2 linked regions of the Homo sapiens genome follow. The protein of the gene in region 1 interacts with the protein of each later gene in a pairwise test. Each region holds a gene or a part of one and is shown on either strand. Other genes may lie near its edges. The genes, in order: RAPGEF5 and PLAC9.

Evidence for each region.
Region 2: the proteins of RAPGEF5 (region 1) and PLAC9 interact in a two-hybrid assay, tested with the Homo sapiens proteins (one large-scale study listed by BioGRID and IntAct).

What each region holds. Positions count from the first base shown.
Region 1 is NC_000007.14:22,354,941-22,358,851, reverse strand, and holds the start of RAPGEF5 (rap guanine nucleotide exchange factor 5), read left to right. Parts: upstream 1-1,697; 5' UTR 1,698-1,791; coding exon 1,792-2,022; intron 2,023-3,911. UniProt on the Homo sapiens protein: Guanine nucleotide exchange factor (GEF) for RAP1A, RAP2A and MRAS/M-Ras-GTP. Its association with MRAS inhibits Rap1 activation.
Region 2 is NC_000010.11:80,139,159-80,142,969, reverse strand, and holds part of PLAC9 (placenta-specific protein 9 isoform 1 precursor), read right to left. Parts: intron 889-3,811; coding exon 791-888; intron 1-790.

The sequences.
Region 1 (3,911 bases):
AGCATGACATATTTTCAGTGCCCAGTGAGTTCTGTGTGATACCACCTTTGTGTTTTTCTCATGTCTTTCTCTCTTTTTTTTTTTCTTTTTTGAGACGGAGTCTCACTCTGTCGCGCAGTGGCGCAATCTTGGCTCACTGCAAGCTCCGCCTGCCGGGTTCACGCCATTCTCCTGCCTCAGCCTCCCGAGTAGCTGGAACTACAGGCGCCCACCACCACGACCGGCTAATTTTTGTATTTTTAGTAGAGACGGGGTTTCACCTTGTTAGCCAGGATGGTCTCGATTTCCTGACCTCGTGATCCGCCCGCCTCAGCCTCCCAACGTGCTGGGATTACAGGCGTGAGCCACCGCGCCCGGCCTCATGTCTTTCTTCCTTACTTGAAGGACACCTACCCTCCTTCTGCCTGGTTGAATCTTCCCCACTCACCCTTAAGGTGCAGTTTAAACTTCCTTCCTTTCGTGGATTTAGCTTTGCCCATCCCAGGCCAGAAGCATTTCTCTCTCCTGTGGCCTGAAGTGGTCTTACCTACACTTACTTGGCAATTAGCAAGAGTACAAGTGCAATATCTTTGTTTTTCTGGATGTTTGTCTACTCCTAGGTTAAGTCTTACCTTCCTTAAGGGCAGAGGTCACAGTTCGTTCCTCCTTTTTTGTTACATGGCATGTTTTTATACATATTTGCCAAGCACCTACCATGTGAGTGGCTGAGGGCACAATGGTAAACCAACTCTGGACCCTGACCTCCTACGATTCTTGTCATTTTTTAAAAATGTGAATAAGCTTATTCAACTTTTGTAAGTCTTAGACAAAGATGGGGATCCCAGCGCCCCACTGATGAGAAGTCAACACCCTGGCTGGCCCTTGTTGAAGACAGATTGAGCTGAGATGTGAACATTCACACTCCCTGGCGTTTAAGGCACTGCTGGAATAGTTTCACTCTCAATGATCCAGAATTCCTGCCTCCTGGAAGGGTGTAAACAATGATTCACACCACGGCAGGCCTTTACAGTTCACCAAGCACATTCATCACAGCAGCGGGCTTTCAGGGAAGGTCAGGTTCTGACATGCTAACAGAGATTCACCTTCAGGTCACCAGACTTGCAGCTACTCTGCTCAACACCTATCATAACCAACAAAAGTTTTCTCCCTTCGTCCTTTAAGGATGCGTGTGCCAAGAAGGGTCGGCGCAAAGCAATTTTGCCTCATGGTGTTTGCCTTGTAGCGTGTCTATTTTGAAGTTCCTTGGCCAAAACAGTTCCCAGGAGTAAAGATTACGATGAGGGGCCAGGCTGTGCAAAACGCGCGGGAGGGCGGACGACTCTCCAGCACACTTGGTTGAAGTCCAAGTCAACCCCTGGCTATTCGAAGAAGTGAAGCAGGACTTTTCAGCCTAAGGGGTAGGGGGACAGGGACAGGACAGAAGAGCGGGTTTGCCGGAGATTCTGGGAATTCTGCACCTGTGGATGAGCCGGTGCCCAAGGTGCCCTCTTCCTCCCGGGTCCCGAGTGGGAGATCCGAGGGGGACAGGTCCCAGGCAGCTTTCGCAGGCGAAAGGGCGGGGCGGGGCGGGGCCCGCGCACCTGGGCGGGGAGGGGAGGAGAGAGGAGGGGAGGGGAGGCGCGCGGGGCTGAGCCTCGCGGGGGCCGCGGCGCGCGCCAATGGGCAGCGGCTGGCAGCGCGCCCCGCGCCCGAGCCGCAGTCGCGCCCTCTCGCTTCCTGGCGAAGGCGCGGACGGCGCGCGGAGGCGAGCGCGGTGGAGAGGAGCCCCCGGCGCCGCAGCGCCGTCAGGGCATGAGGATGGCCGTGGGCTCCGTCAAGATGCAGCCGCCGTGCGAGAGCCCGGCCCTGGCCGCCGCGGCGGCGGTGGTGGCGGCAGACGGCCCCCTGCGCCGCAGCCCCAGCGCCCGGGAGCCCGAGCGCGAGCAGCCGCCGGCGTCGCTGCGGCCGCGGCTGAGGGACCTGCCCGCGCTGCTGCGGAGCGGGCTCACGCTGCGGAGGAAGCGGAGCGCCGCTGGGGGCCGGGTGAGTGGCCCGGCCCTGTCCGAGTGGGCACGGGCGGCGCGCACGTGGAGCCCGCGCCCACCCCCCGGGCCGCTGAGGGGGGCGTCTGGAAGTTGGGGAGGTGGCGGAAGGGACGCCCTTCTGCCGGACTCGGCTGAAGAGGGGCCCGGGACGGCGGGTTTTGAGGTGCCACCCCCTGAGCGACGGCTTCCCCCGCCCCCACACCTCCCCCCCACCAGGCTGCACCTGACTTAACCCCAGGGCCCCCAGATTCAGGCTGCGGGACCGGGCATCGGCTGAAGACGAGCTGTTTGCCTCTTCTCGGAGGGGAAGCTGCAGGTGTCCAGCGTCCAACAGCCAGCCAGCCCTGTCCCAACCGCAAGCTTCAGGCCCCACGAGCGGCATCCCTGTTTGCAGGACGCATGCGACGTGTGTGCTTGTTTTGGAGGTGCTGTTGCAAGCTCTGGGCATCGAGACTGGTTTTGGTGGTCTCCACCGCCGAGGGGCAGACCCAGGAGTCGGAAGCTCTTGGGTGAGCTTCCAGTTCCTGGGTTCCGGTGTCTCCAGCACTTAATACTCCTGGACACCCTCTTGAGCAGGAGGGTGCACGCCCCCAAGAACCTTCAATATTGACTTCCTGATGGTGTGTTCAGATACGATTTCCTGGTGAAGGAGTGTCCCTCATTGAGTTCTAAGTGCATCTAATGACCTGAGCAGGTCAGGCATGTTTTGTATTTTTAAGAGAAGCAGGAAGGTCTGCTGATTGTCTCCTGGGATCTTTAAGAAGCCACCTAGGAGGCCCCGCCAGGGCCTCAGGACACAGAGCTGACTTACTCAGATTTCCCTGCTCACCAGGGTTTGGCGGCACCTTTGGTGGGTTCTACTCATCTTTTAAAAATTTATTATTAAGTGGTCTTTAATGAGAAGCTGCATCAATGTGGTTTTTCTTTCCCGTTTGGCTGTAATTTTTAAAATGCAGTCTTGTCTGACTTAAAACAAGACCTTGCTGGGAGACTTCTAGCTCTTTCAGAGATGGGTTTGTGTAAACTTGAGAGTGAGGGATAACCACTTGTTTTCATGCGCCCTCCTTTGGGTAGGGAAGGGTCTGAACTGATGTCGGTCTTCAGCTTCTCGAGGCTGCATCTCTCTTTTCCTAGGCATTTTCCATCTCAGGTGGAAAATGGTCCATCCCAGGTCCATCTCAGAAGATGTTCTGAGGATTCTCTGTGTGTGATGGGACATTCTTAAAGTCGGTGACCCAGAGAGTTTAGGAATTGCCCACAAGTGACCTTAACATGTGTGGCATTTAGGATTGCCTGCAAAGTAAGTGAGGAAATGTGTCCCCAAGATGTGGTGTCGGAATAAACAAGAACTGGAGTTATAGACTTTGCAGGAATCCAGGGAAAAGTAGGTCAAATTATGTTTCTATTATCCTTGACGGTTACTTTTTCATGGCACAGAATACTGAAGACATGAGGGCTGCCAGGCAGTCTGCGACAAGAATTGCTGAGGGTTTCTGTATAAATAGATCTATAGTATTTATTTGCGTTCATACTCATGTTTCTTGCTGCCTGGGAGGGTGTCGTATACCTTGTCAATATACCTATTTAGTTTTATTTTTTAATTACTCTGAATGTGGTTACCTCAGATAATGTATGCTTTATTAACCCTCTTTGATTCTAATACTGTATTATTTCTTTTTGGGACTTTCCAAACACATTTCGTAACTGCATAGCCAGTTTTTATTGAAGGAAGTTTGATTGTCAGTTTTTCCAGTGTTGGAAACCCATACTTTTTGACTATTTATTTGACTGTTTATTTCCCCTTTCTTCTGCCTTGGAACTACCTTTGTGATTTTGGAATCTTCCCCATCAAAGGAGTAGGAAGGGGGTTGAAAGAAGGAGAAAAAC
Region 2 (3,811 bases), on another chromosome or scaffold:
GGGCAGATGGCTTGAGCTCAGGAGTTCGAGACCAGCCTGGGCAACATAGCAAAACCTTGCCTCTACAAAATAAATACAGAAATTAGCTAGGCATGGTGGCACATGTGTCTGTAGTCTCAGCTACTTGGGAGACTGAGGTGGGAGGATTGCTTGAGCCTGGGAGGTGGAAGTTGCAGTGAGCCGAGACTGCACCACGGCACTCCAGCCTGGTAGACAGACAGAGACCCTGCCTCAAAAAAAATAAAATGTATTTATTAACTCACTAAATCACATGATTTAACATCAGGCCTAATAACAACTGAAATTTTGACATAAGGAAGGATAAAAATTATATGTTGAGATATTCATAACTAGAAGATGAAATTATCTGGATTTCTATTGATGACAAAGTTATAGTACTGTTAATACCACGGCTCGCTGTTTGTATTTATGATGAATGAGAATGCTCAATTTCAGTTAAAGGCTTGTGACAATAAAGATGTAAACTTTTCCCCACACAAGTTAGGAATCGTGGCTATATAACAAAACAGTGACTGAATTTCCACCTTCCCATCCAGTAATGATGTTGAAATATCCGGGTGGGGGTAAGCAAGGCCTTAGGGGAGGCAGGGTCCACTGGGGGCTGGGCAGCCCGGCAGCCTAGATGGGAGGGTGATGTTGGACGAGGTGGCCACAGGGCAGGATCGGCCCGGATGTCCTCACATTCCAAAGCAAGCTTGCATCTGCCCATAAAAACACCATCCTAGAAGGTGGTCCTGAACTCGCATGTCCTTCCAAACCACCCTGTTACCTCCTCCATGACATCTAGACGGCGTTGCACAGCCATGTGTCTGTCACACGCTGTGCTCTGAGCTGAGTCTCCTCGCGGAGGGCTGAAGGGTTCGGCAGCTGTGGGAAAACAAGTCTTGTCACTGTGGGACCCTTAGTTTTCCATAATGCCAGAGACTCCTGTAAACACTGGGCTCAAATGAGGTCAGTCCTCAAAGCAAACTCAGGAGCAAGCGGAGGACGGCCCAGGTGGGGGTCAGTGTGCGAGTGTCAGCCATCTCAATCCCACCAGTCTCTACAGCCACAGTCACCTACAGACCCAGATGAACTTCCTCAAGGAGGTGAAGCCCAGGGAGGAAGGGAGGATGGGCTTCAGCCAGGCAGAATGGCACCTGCAACAATGGAGAGGTCTGAAAGAGCAGGGCTCACTGTGCAAAACCTGCAGGGAGCCCGCGGTGGCTGGAGATACAGGGTGGGCGGGAGAGAGAGACTGGAGAGGGAAGTCCTGGAAATGAAGCCAAGGGGGCAGAGCTTTAACCCAGGGGCTTTAATAAACCAGTTCTGATGCTTGTTTGTTTTTTTGTGTGTTTGTTTGTTTGTTTTGAGATGGAGTCTCGCTCTGTCGCCCAGGCTGGAGTGCAATGGTGCGATCTCAGCTCACTCCAACCTCCGCCTCCTGGGTTCAAGCGATTCTCCTGCCTCAGCCTCCTGAGTAGCTGGGATTACAAGCACCTGCCACCACGCCCTGCTAATTTTTGTATTTTTAGCAGAGACAGGGTTTCACCATGTTGGTCAGCCTGGTCTCAAACTCCTGACCTCAGGTGATCCACCCGCCTCAGCCTTCCAAAGTGCTGGGATTACAGGTGTAAGCCACCAAGCCAGGCCAAGGGGGGTTATTTTAACAGAAAAGTCACAGAGCCAAACATGAATTTTTTAAATATAGGGAATAGATTGGAGGGAGATGCCTTTGAAGGCAGGAGGTTACTGCAGCAATCAGGATAAGAGGGGTGAAGGAGAAGTGATGAGCAGAGGCAGGAGCTGTAGGAATAGTGAGGAAGAAAATGAAAGGAGATATTTCAGTAGCAGCGTTGACACTGGGAACCCGTTAGTAACAGCTGGCATGTGATGAGTGCTTACCATGCACCATGTAGGGTGCTAACTTAACCTCTCCAACAACCTGTTGTTATGCCCAATCTACACGTAGGAAAACTGATGCACAGAAGGGTGAAAGGATGTGTCCAAAGTCACTACTCATAAGCAGAGGACTCATGAGGCCAAGAAGAGGGCCAATAAATTGGGAGAAATGGGGGCTGAAGAGGCTGGAGGTCTTAGGAATCACAGGAGGAACAAGAGGTAAAGAATATTGCAATTTTAGCCAGGCATGGTGGCTCACACCTGTAATCCCAGCACTTTGGGAGGGCGAGGTAGGCGCACGAGGTCAGGAGATTGAGACCATCCTGGCTAACATGGTGAAACCCCTCTCAACTCTTGATTCACCATTGTTCTCCTTGAGTTAGCTCTTCCAGGCACCATCAACCCTCAGAGCAGAAGTCTCAGAGCCCTGATGCCGAGCTTGGGTTTCAGAGTTGGTAACCCTGAGATGCCTGTGGGGCATCAGGGTTGGCTGGAACCTTGGAGAACGCTGACACTCAGGAAGGAGGGTGCTGCCCCAGAAGTCAAGAGAAGCCAAGAGCTTTACAGATTCTGCAGAGGATGAAAAGCGTCAGCAGGGCCGAAAGCAGCGGAGAGGTCTAGCAAGATAAGGACTGGAAAGAGAGCACAGAAAGGCCCTGCTAAATTTCACCCCAGCACTTTTAGGAGTGGTGGAAAAGCAGAGTTTGGATTACCATGAGATGAGGAGGGAAGGTGAGGTTGGGGGTGGAAACTTGGATTCTGGAAAATTTCACGAAGCTTGGCTGTGAAGGAAGGGAGATTGGATCGCAAGGTCTAGAGGAGTATTTATGGTTGTCATTTTTTTTTTTAAAGCATTGGAAAACACAATCATGCTTACAGCCTGAGGGACAGGAGGAAGACAGGAGAACCCAAGGATGAACTTCCTGAACTGATGGGAGGCCCTGGATCCAGAGGGGGTGGGACCACATCTCGAAGGAAGACAGAGGGAATGCAGCAAAAATGGGCAAAGGCAAACCATCTAACTAGAGGGCCAAAAAGTGGAGTGAGCTCCCACCTGATGGCCTCTATTTACTCTGTGCAGTAAGATGGAGATCACGTAGGGAGGAGAGCTAGATGTTAAAATTACAAGAATTCTATGAGTAGGTTGCTAAACACAGACATTAAAATAGTGACCATGGTGTCTGGAAATGGTAGCTCGTGCCTGTAATCCTAGCACTTTGGGAGGCCGAGTGGGAGGGTCGCTTGAGGCCAGGAGTTCAAGACCAGCCTGATCAACATAGTGAGACCCCATTTCTAAAAAGAAAAAAAATTTTAAGTTAAAAAAAAAATGGTGGCCATGATGAGAACATTTACACCACGGAAATCAACGACCCCCCTCCCCACTTTTTTTTGAGAGCCAGTCCATCAGTGCACCACTAGGTAAGGGACTTGAATAAAGAGAGGGCTTCAAAAGGGGATGTGCAGAATGAGGGATGCAGTGTAGGAGGGCTATGCAGAATGAGCCGGCATCAACAAGGAATCCTGGAAGCACGAGTCCTCCCCCAGCAGTGCTCCACAGTCTGGGTGCAGGGCAGCAAAGACAGATGGCTGGATGGAGCTGAAACCTAGGAGTCTGCAGGATGGATGTGGTGGAGGCAAGGGGCCAAGGAACTGAGATTTGGCCAGAGGTTTAGGAGAGGAGGCCTGGAATCCAGCTGGGATGAGGAAGGAAATGAGGCCAAGAAGAGGGCCAATGAATTGGGAGAAATGGGGGCTGAAGAGACTGGAGGTCTTAGGAATCACAGGAGGAACAAGAGGTAAAGAATGTTGCAATTTTAGCCAGGCGCGGTGGCTCACGCCTGTAATCCCAGCACTTTGGGAGGCCGAGGCGGGCAGATCATGAGGTCAGGAGATCGAGACCATCCTGGCT